Linked DNA regions of Homo sapiens: region 2 is reported to be linked to region 1. The links are microRNA targets in miRTarBase. Many come from high-throughput screens and were not tested one by one. Region 1 holds a microRNA gene; the other region holds the end of a gene's coding sequence.

What was found. Region 1 holds the annotated microRNA hsa-miR-142-5p (CAUAAAGUAGAAAGCACUACU, at 1,249-1,269, opposite strand). A microRNA usually pairs through its seed, bases 2 to 8, with sites in the 3' UTR of a target mRNA and lowers its output. Matches are read on the target gene's strand: a 7mer-m8 pairs with bases 2 to 8, a 7mer-A1 pairs with bases 2 to 7 and ends in A, and an 8mer does both.
Region 2: the mRNA of PEX2 is a reported target of hsa-miR-142-5p. Seed matches in the 3' UTR shown: 7mer-A1 at 697-703 and 7mer-A1 at 1,425-1,431.

Annotation. Positions count from the first base shown.
Region 1 is chr17:58,330,035-58,334,101 of GRCh38, forward strand. It overlaps MIR142 (microRNA 142), which reads right to left and starts at 1,284; the gene lies at 1,198-1,284. All of the region lies in intron 2 of TSPOAP1-AS1 (TSPOAP1, SUPT4H1 and RNF43 antisense RNA 1), which reads left to right. It overlaps MIR142HG (MIR142 host genes), which reads right to left and starts at 2,486. Exons shown (of 1, transcript NR_186557.1): 1 at 854-2,486. RefSeq lists enhancers at 1,374-1,513, 2,314-2,383, 2,884-2,953, 3,544-3,633 and a silencer at 2,494-2,803.
Region 2 is chr8:76,979,804-76,983,870 of GRCh38, reverse strand. It overlaps PEX2 (peroxisomal biogenesis factor 2), which reads left to right. Exons shown (of 4, transcript NM_000318.3): 4 at 1-3,613. The coding sequence ends at 610. Among named protein-coding and RNA genes, the nearest start is that of MIR3149, 15 kb to the right of the region's middle.

The sequences.
Region 1 (4,067 bases):
TACAACACATCATGATATATATAGATATGGATGCTACTATATGGCACAATGTAGTAATTGATTACACAATATATGACATGCTCATATCGTCATGTAAATATGCATAATGACATGGTTTGATTTATATATATATATCACCATGTATCTATGTATTCTATATTTATCATGATATATGAACATGTCTCTATCTATGTATGTGTATGGAGCCACCGTGTTTATTATGCAAATGTCACTGTATGTGTGTGCTCTTCTATGTGTAAGACACGCCCTATGTTTCTATCATTGCATGTGTGTACTACTGAATATGTATGTGCCCTGGGTGTGTGTAATCCCTGTGTGTGTCATGCCAGTCATGTCACATGTGTCTGTGTGTGTGTTACTGGCACACTGAATGGGGCCTCTGTGTGTAAATGCATTTGCATCTCAGTGTGTGCTTTGTATATGAGTGTCTGTGCCCTTGTCTAAGATGCTGTGTATGTGCCACAGTGGATTTTGCCCAATTTTTATATGACCTAGGACCCCCTAGACTTTCTTAGATTAAAACTGGATGTAGGCAGCTTTCAGTTTGGGTATGTAGGGGGGCAGGATAGGGCCAGAGCTAGGGTAGAAGGTGAGAGGATGCCTTACATCCCTGCCCCTTTCTGCAGATGGCCCAGGCCCTTCTCTCCTCCGGCTGTGGCCTGGCCAGGCCCAGAGCCCTCTTCTGATCTCATAGGCAGGGCCAAACCCGTATCTTCTGGAGGAGCGACAGAGGTTCTCCCTCCCAGCCCTTCTGTGCGCCCATACTGTCCATGTGCCTGCCGCCCGCATTCAGCTCCCCACCCCAGCAACAGAGTCTCAGACAAAAGAGAAGCACAGTCCAGTCTTTATTAGCATTGGGTCCCTGGTCCCACCACCCATTCCCCTCCACGTACCATCCCTTCCCACCCCTTCCTCGTCCTTGACGCTGCGGCTGCATCAGGGTTCCACATGTCCAGCCCTCCCCGCCCCCAAAGACTGCAGGGCAGCAGAGGAGCTGCTGTGGCCTTTCCCCAGCTGTCCGGAACCAGGAAGGGCAGGAAAGCCATGGAGGCCTTTCAGGCATCTGGGCAGGGTAGGGAGGGGCCGTAAGGTGCTCACCTGTCACACGAGGTCCCCGAGCGCCGAGGAAGATGGTGGCGGGCAGCGGGCGGCAGCAGTGGCGTGATCTCCGAAGCCCACAGTACACTCATCCATAAAGTAGGAAACACTACACCCTCCAGTGCTGTTAGTAGTGCTTTCTACTTTATGGGTGACTGCACTGTCTGTCTGTCCGTCGGCGTGTACTCTTCAGGCTGCCCAGGCCTCCTGACTCCTGCTCCAAGAGCCCCCCAGCCCTCCTTGTGGCTTCCTAAGATCCCCCCAACCCTGCCAGGGCCCCCCGAGGGCCCGCCCTGGGCCTTGTGGGCGGTGACTCAGCATGGCGCCAGACTTGCCTCCTCTACCTCCCTCCCCCACTTCCTCTTCAGTTCCCTCTTCCCTTCCCCCTAAAGGCTCCACCCCATCCCCCCAGTTTCAGAGACACTCAGGTAGAGACTAGGGCCTCTGGAGGCCTCACCTTCAGTTCTGTGAACCCCTGGCTGGCCGCTTCCAGCCACGCTAGCCACCCTCCAGCGTCCAAATGAGGCAGCCACAGCTCCCCTGCCAAGGTCTTGGTCTCCAGTCCACCCCAACCGTGAGGTCCTGACTGCCCAGAGCCTCAGTCCCCACCCTTCAGCCTCCCCACCAGCCCAAGATCCTGACCCCCCAGGGCCTAAGTCCCCAGCCTCCCCAACAGCCCAGGGTCCTGACCCCCCAGGGCCTCAGGCCCTGGCCTCCCCACCAGCCCAAGGTCTTGAACACACCAGGGCCTCAATTCCCAGCCTCCCCACCAGCTCAAGGTCCTGACTCCCCCAGAGCCTCAGTCCCAGCCTCCATAGCAGCCCAAGGTCCTGACCCCCCAGGGCCTCAGTCCCCAGCCACTCCACCAGCCCCAAAGTCCTGACTCCCCAGAGCCTTGATTCTCGGCCTCCCCACCAGCCCAAAGTCCTGACTCCCTCACTGCCCTGCTGTTCCCCTGGCAGGAGCCCAAGGCTATCCCAACAAAAATGGTGGCCATGTTGGGCGGAGGAAGAGGCTGGCGCCCCTTGAGACACTGGTCCCACTTCTCAGCCTCTGCGTACCCTCTGCCATCCCCGCCTTACTCTCCAGCCCTCCTCCTTGGACACCTCTTTCCCCGCCTGGGGTCCCGGAGCCATTTTACCTTCCTTCACTAGAGAGGGTTTCAAGGCGCTTTGCCCTGAGCTTCCCGCATGGGGCTTGCACCCAAGCTCCTCGACACCCCCAACGCGCCTCCACCCAGACCAGCAGCCCAAGCCCCTAGAGGCCCCGAGCTGAGGAGCCCCAGTTGGGGCAGCAGTGAAGGTCCGGATCCTTACCTGAGGCTGCAGGGCGGAGGAGAGCTCGCCCTGTGCTCCAGGCTCCGAAGTGGGGTTCCCTTCAGGGAGGGCAGGGCTTATAACCCCGAGGCCACGTGGGCCAGATCTCAGGGCGCCCAACGGTCTCAGAGCGCGCCCCGCCCCCGCCCGCAGGGGATGAGCGCCCTCCCTCCCTCCCTCCCTGGGGAGGACAGACTGACAGGAAACAGAAGGGGGTGGGCCCGCGGGAGGGCTGGGGACCCTCTCTCATGCCCTGGGCAGGTGGCTTCCGGCCCCAGCTGCCCTTCCCCCCGTGGCACCAGCTCCAAGGGATGGCTCAAGAGCCTGGGACTGACTCAGGGCATTGAGGGTGACCCCAGAAGACCAGGGCTCCTCGACAGGGCCCTCGGTGAGTGCCCAAAACGGGGAGTCCAGAATTCCAGCACAAGAAAAGGACCTTCTCTCTGAGCCCCACCGCTGCTGACCTCAGCCCAGAAAACTCCCTTCCCTTCCCAACACTCAGGCCAGGCCCTGGCTCCTCTGCGTGTGCTCCCGAGGGCCATGGAGGTGCTGATGCATGAAGGGCGTCCATGGAGACTGTTGTCCTCAGCACCCCACAAAGCCACCCCTCCTGCAGCCTCAGCCTGCAGGGCACAGTGCGGGGGACACTCTCAGGCCCGGTGGACTGATGGCACTAGGCTAGGTGTTCACGCTCTCTTTGGGACCTGTGGGGACAAGAGGGCAGGGCAGAGCTGGGTGAGGATCAGGTCCTAAGGTGGGGCACAGGTGCTATGCGGAGAGAAGGGGGCTTGGAGGAGTGGCGGGAAAGAGGCTCGAGGGAAGGTTCTGGCGGCCACCGGATGTGGGCATGGGGCCCACCCACCTGCATGCCACCCCCGATTTCCCCATGGGGAAGGCAGGAAGCTGCCCAGCCCAGGGCCCCTGGCTGGGGGAGGGGAGTAGGGTGTGGGGGTGGGCAGGGGACAGCGTCGGCTGAGCCCAGCCCATACCATCTTCCCCCAGCGTTCTCCAAGCCTCTCCATGGGCTTGGCTCTGGAAGCAAGAGGAATGGGTTTGGGGAGGTAGGAGCGGTAGAGAGAAAACCACCCAGTGACTCCTTCCCAGAAGGCCATGGACCTCTTCTCTGGGTCCTCCGTTTAGGCCCACACAGACCTTAGGGAGCTGTCAGATTCAGGGCCTAGAAGAGGACTGGCATGGGGGCAGTGGGGAGGGAGATGGCCCCACATCCTTCCCTCCAGGAAGGGGGTCCTTCAACCTGGAAAGTTGCCCCATTCCCAGGTCCCTAAAATGGGACAGAGAAAGGGGGAATGGGGCCTTTCACCCCCTTGAGTCTAAAGAGAAAGTGGTGAGGAGGGTTGCCTTGCAGGGCCAGCTGGCCAGAAATGGGGCGATACTCCTTTAAGAGACCACCGCTGCCTCTGACCTGGGTGGAGGGGAAGTGGCTGCCCCAGGCGATAAGAGGATAAGAATATCAAAGTTGTGCAGTAACCTGGGTTCCTGGACCCCCATTCTTCAGGGCTCCTCCCCTGAGAGCATCTTACCTCCTACTCCTGCTTATGATGCCTCCATAGCCCTCACTTCAGAGGCGTCCTGTCCCCACAAAAGAGAGTCACAGAATGGGACCCAGGAGCC
Region 2 (4,067 bases), not on the chromosome of region 1:
AATCTGGTATGCTGTTTGTACAATTGGTGGCAGGTGGTTAGAAGAACGATGCTATGATTTGTTTCGAAACCATCATTTAGCATCATTTGGGAAAGTCAAGCAGTGTGTGAATTTTGTGATTGGACTTTTGAAATTAGGTGGGCTGATTAATTTTTTGATTTTCCTTCAGAGGGGAAAGTTTGCAACTTTGACAGAACGTCTCCTAGGTATTCATTCTGTATTTTGCAAGCCTCAAAACATATGTGAAGTTGGCTTTGAATACATGAATAGGGAACTTCTCTGGCATGGTTTTGCTGAATTTCTGATTTTTCTCTTACCACTTATCAATGTCCAGAAGTTGAAAGCCAAGCTGTCTTCATGGTGTATTCCTCTTACTGGTGCACCTAATAGTGACAATACATTAGCCACCAGTGGCAAAGAATGCGCTCTATGTGGAGAGTGGCCCACCATGCCTCACACCATAGGATGTGAGCATATTTTCTGTTATTTCTGTGCTAAGAGTAGTTTCTTATTTGACGTGTACTTTACTTGTCCTAAGTGTGGCACAGAAGTACACAGTCTGCAGCCACTGAAATCAGGAATCGAGATGTCAGAAGTAAATGCTCTTTAGAAACTAAAATTGCTTCCTTTGAGGAAAAAAATGCACCGTGTTTAAATTCTTAATATTAGTCATCCTAAGTATACCATTTATGTATCCTTTATAAGGAATGTGCTCCTAGCCACTGTCTTCTCCTTTCCAGGCATGACTGAAATCTAATCACTGGAAACCATGTGATTCTAAATATATTATGTAAATGTTAATGTATTATGTTTTTTAAATCATTGCATTCAATTTTTAATGTCAAGAATAATGGACAGCTTTTGTCAGGTGACTACTAACAATGCTCCTTCATTTTACTACTTCTTAAAACAAGGTTGGATTCTAAAGATAAAGATTTTGGAGACTCTGGGATGAGTGTGCATTTATTTTCAGAGTTGACATAATATGATAATGTGACAATTATGAGACTGTTTTAAACCTTAAGACCTGATGCCTCAGTTGTAACTTTTTTTTTTTTTTCTGAGACGGTGTCCTGCTCTGTCACCCAGGCTGGAGTGCAGTGGCGCGATCTCTGCTCACTGCAACGTCCGCCTCCCGGGTTCAAGCAATTCTCCTGCCTCAGCCTCCCGAGTAGCTGGCACTGCAGGTGCATGCCACCATGCCCGGGTAATTTTTGTATTTTTAGTAGAGATGGGGTTCACTGTGTTAGCCAGGATGGTCTCTATCTCCTGATCTGGTGATCCACCTGCGTCAGCCTCCCAAAGTGCTGAGATTACAGACGTGAGCCACTGTGCTTGGCCGCCTCAGTTGTAATGTTATGCTTTTCTCTGAAGCCAATTTTTAAGAAGTTCAGTCCTCAGCTGTCTGACCCCTCCACAGTTGGCTTTATATTCAGAAAGTAAAAATTACTTAAGGCAGCTTGGAAGTGAGGCCTGGGAACTACTGGGGGCAACTAGTATGAACAGCACTATTTACAGGTCTCTTTCTCTTGCCTTTGATTCAGAGCTGTCATTCTCAGTAAATATTGATAGTTTTATTGAAACAAAAGGGGTCTTTAGCATGGGAATAGTAACAGCAGTGCATAATCAAGATAATTCTGTATCCTTCACTCTTTTTCTCTGCCTTTTTTTACTTAAAAGTAAATTCAGACTCTTAAAATGGTATAGAATTATTAGCTTGAACATTGAATTATCTCGTCTTAACTAGAATGTTTTTTAAAAAACAGTTTTTAAATGTTTTTAAATAAACATCTTGCTAGTATGATGGAAATACACTGCCAGTTCATTTTTCTCTTCACCTTTCATTGAACAAGTACTCAGGTGCCAGGTACTGATGTAGCCATTAGAGGCACAACAGTATATTAAGCAGGAAAAATCAAGTTACCTTCATGGAGTTTACATTCTGTGATTGAATGAACTGTAAGTTTAATTTAGGTTCAATTTAGTGTAAGATACTGAAGAAGTTTTGTAGTTTGAGTTAAGAGTATTTTACATCTTAAGAATTTGCCTTCTTTTGCCTTCTGTAATTTTAAAACATTATTGTAGAAAACACCAACAATTCAGGAAAAAATATAAAATCAACTTTCCCACAATTTTTTGAGAGAGATCATCACTATATTTTACTATATTTGTAGATTTGTTGCACGTACATTTCTTATTTACAAAATTATTATAATGCATAAAAAATAGCATTTTTTCCTATGTATAAATATTCTTCAAAACTATTTTAGGGCTGAGCACAATGGCTCATGCCTGTAATCCCAGGCTCCCTACTTAGGGAGGCTGAGCCCAGGAGTTTGAGTTCGTTTCTAAAAAAATAAAAATATATACAAACGTCTTTGTTTTTTGTTTGTTTGTTTGTTTTTGGTGAGAAAGGGCCTCACCCAGTCACCCAGGTTGGAGTGCAGTGGTGTGATCATGGCTAACCGCAGCCTTTCCCTCCCAGGGCTCAAGCGATCCTCCCATCTGAGCCTCCCAAGTTGCTGGGACCACAGGCCCATACCACCATGCCTGGCTAATTTTTGTAGAGATGAGGTCTCACTTTGTTGCCCAGGCTGGTCTTGAACTTCTGGGCTCAAGCAGTCCTCCTACCCTGGCCTCCCAAAGTTGTGGGATTACAGGCATGAGCCACTGCACCCAGCCATAATATATTTTTAAAATGCTATGTATATGCCATCATATTCCTATTCCTATTATTATTTAACCACCATCATAGAGCATTTAGGTTCTTTTCACTTTCTGTTGTGAATAATGCAATGTTGAATCTGAGTTCATTAAGTGAAGAGTCCAGCTGCACACTGCAGGCCCAGTCTGGATGTAGGTGCTCAGATGGTTCTCTTTGAGACAGGCTTTATCCTTTGGCTCTCATTTTTTTGATGAGTGTACATGGCATGAGGGACACAGATTCCGCTAGAATTCAAATCCCACTTGTGTATAACCTAGGGCAATGTGCCACATCTCTGCACATCTGTTCATTGTAAGGATTACATGTTTAGTGTATATAAAGCTCTTAAAACAATGCCTGACACATAGTAAATAGAATATAATAGTAGTGCTTTCCTTTGCTGTTGTCAGTATTACTCTGAGTCGGTTTCATTCTCACACAGAATGATGGCCGCTAGAAGCTCAAGGCTTATAATCTGCTAGCTTTCTGATCCCACTGGCATGAGATACTCTTGCCTAATAGTTACAGCTAAAGTCCAGGAGCTCACTGTTACTGGTCTGCCTTGGATTATGTGCACATTCCTGAACCAGCCACTATAGCTAGGGGATGGAAAATACTGTTCCTGGTTACTTAAATGTAGGTGATGCTCCTCCCATATACCACATGAACCTAAAGGAGTCCTGGAGGAGGCCGTTCACCACAGGAAACTGAGGTGTTCTTAGAAGGGTGGATGCTGGCAGATCTCTACTAGTTAGAGTCTACATTTGCCTTACTCATTTCAAAAGTCCACATTGCAGTCTCATTTTACCAGTGATCTAGCTTGATAAGGACATTCATAAGTAACTGGATGATTCTTTAACATTGCAGATTTGAAAGGATTAAATAAAGTCAACAAAATTGTTATATCAACAATTGTATTATTTTGATAGAGTAACTTCTAAGTAGTTATCCATATTCTCAAAATCTTAAGAAAACAGTACTTTACATATATGCCAGCTGATAGACTTGTCAGTATTGGGGTAGGGGGTGGTTTTTTTCCACAGACCCTAATGGCACTTAGTAAAAATAGGTTTTTATTATTTTTCATTTTTATTTAACATCTGCCACCCCTACTAGGTGATAACCCCCATGAGTTCAGAGACCATGACTATTTTGTTCATCACTAGATAGCCAGAGCCTTTTAGTTCTAGTGTAGCAATAGAAACATTTTATTAGCTGAATAAACCTAAGGTCGCAGATAGGGTTCTGCAGAAGCTGGCGTTGAAAGGGGTTTGAAGTACAAGAGATTTTTATGTATAACTCTCAGGGATCCATGCCTGTGAAGGGAAAGAGCAAAGCAGGAATAGGCAGAAGAAATGAGAGT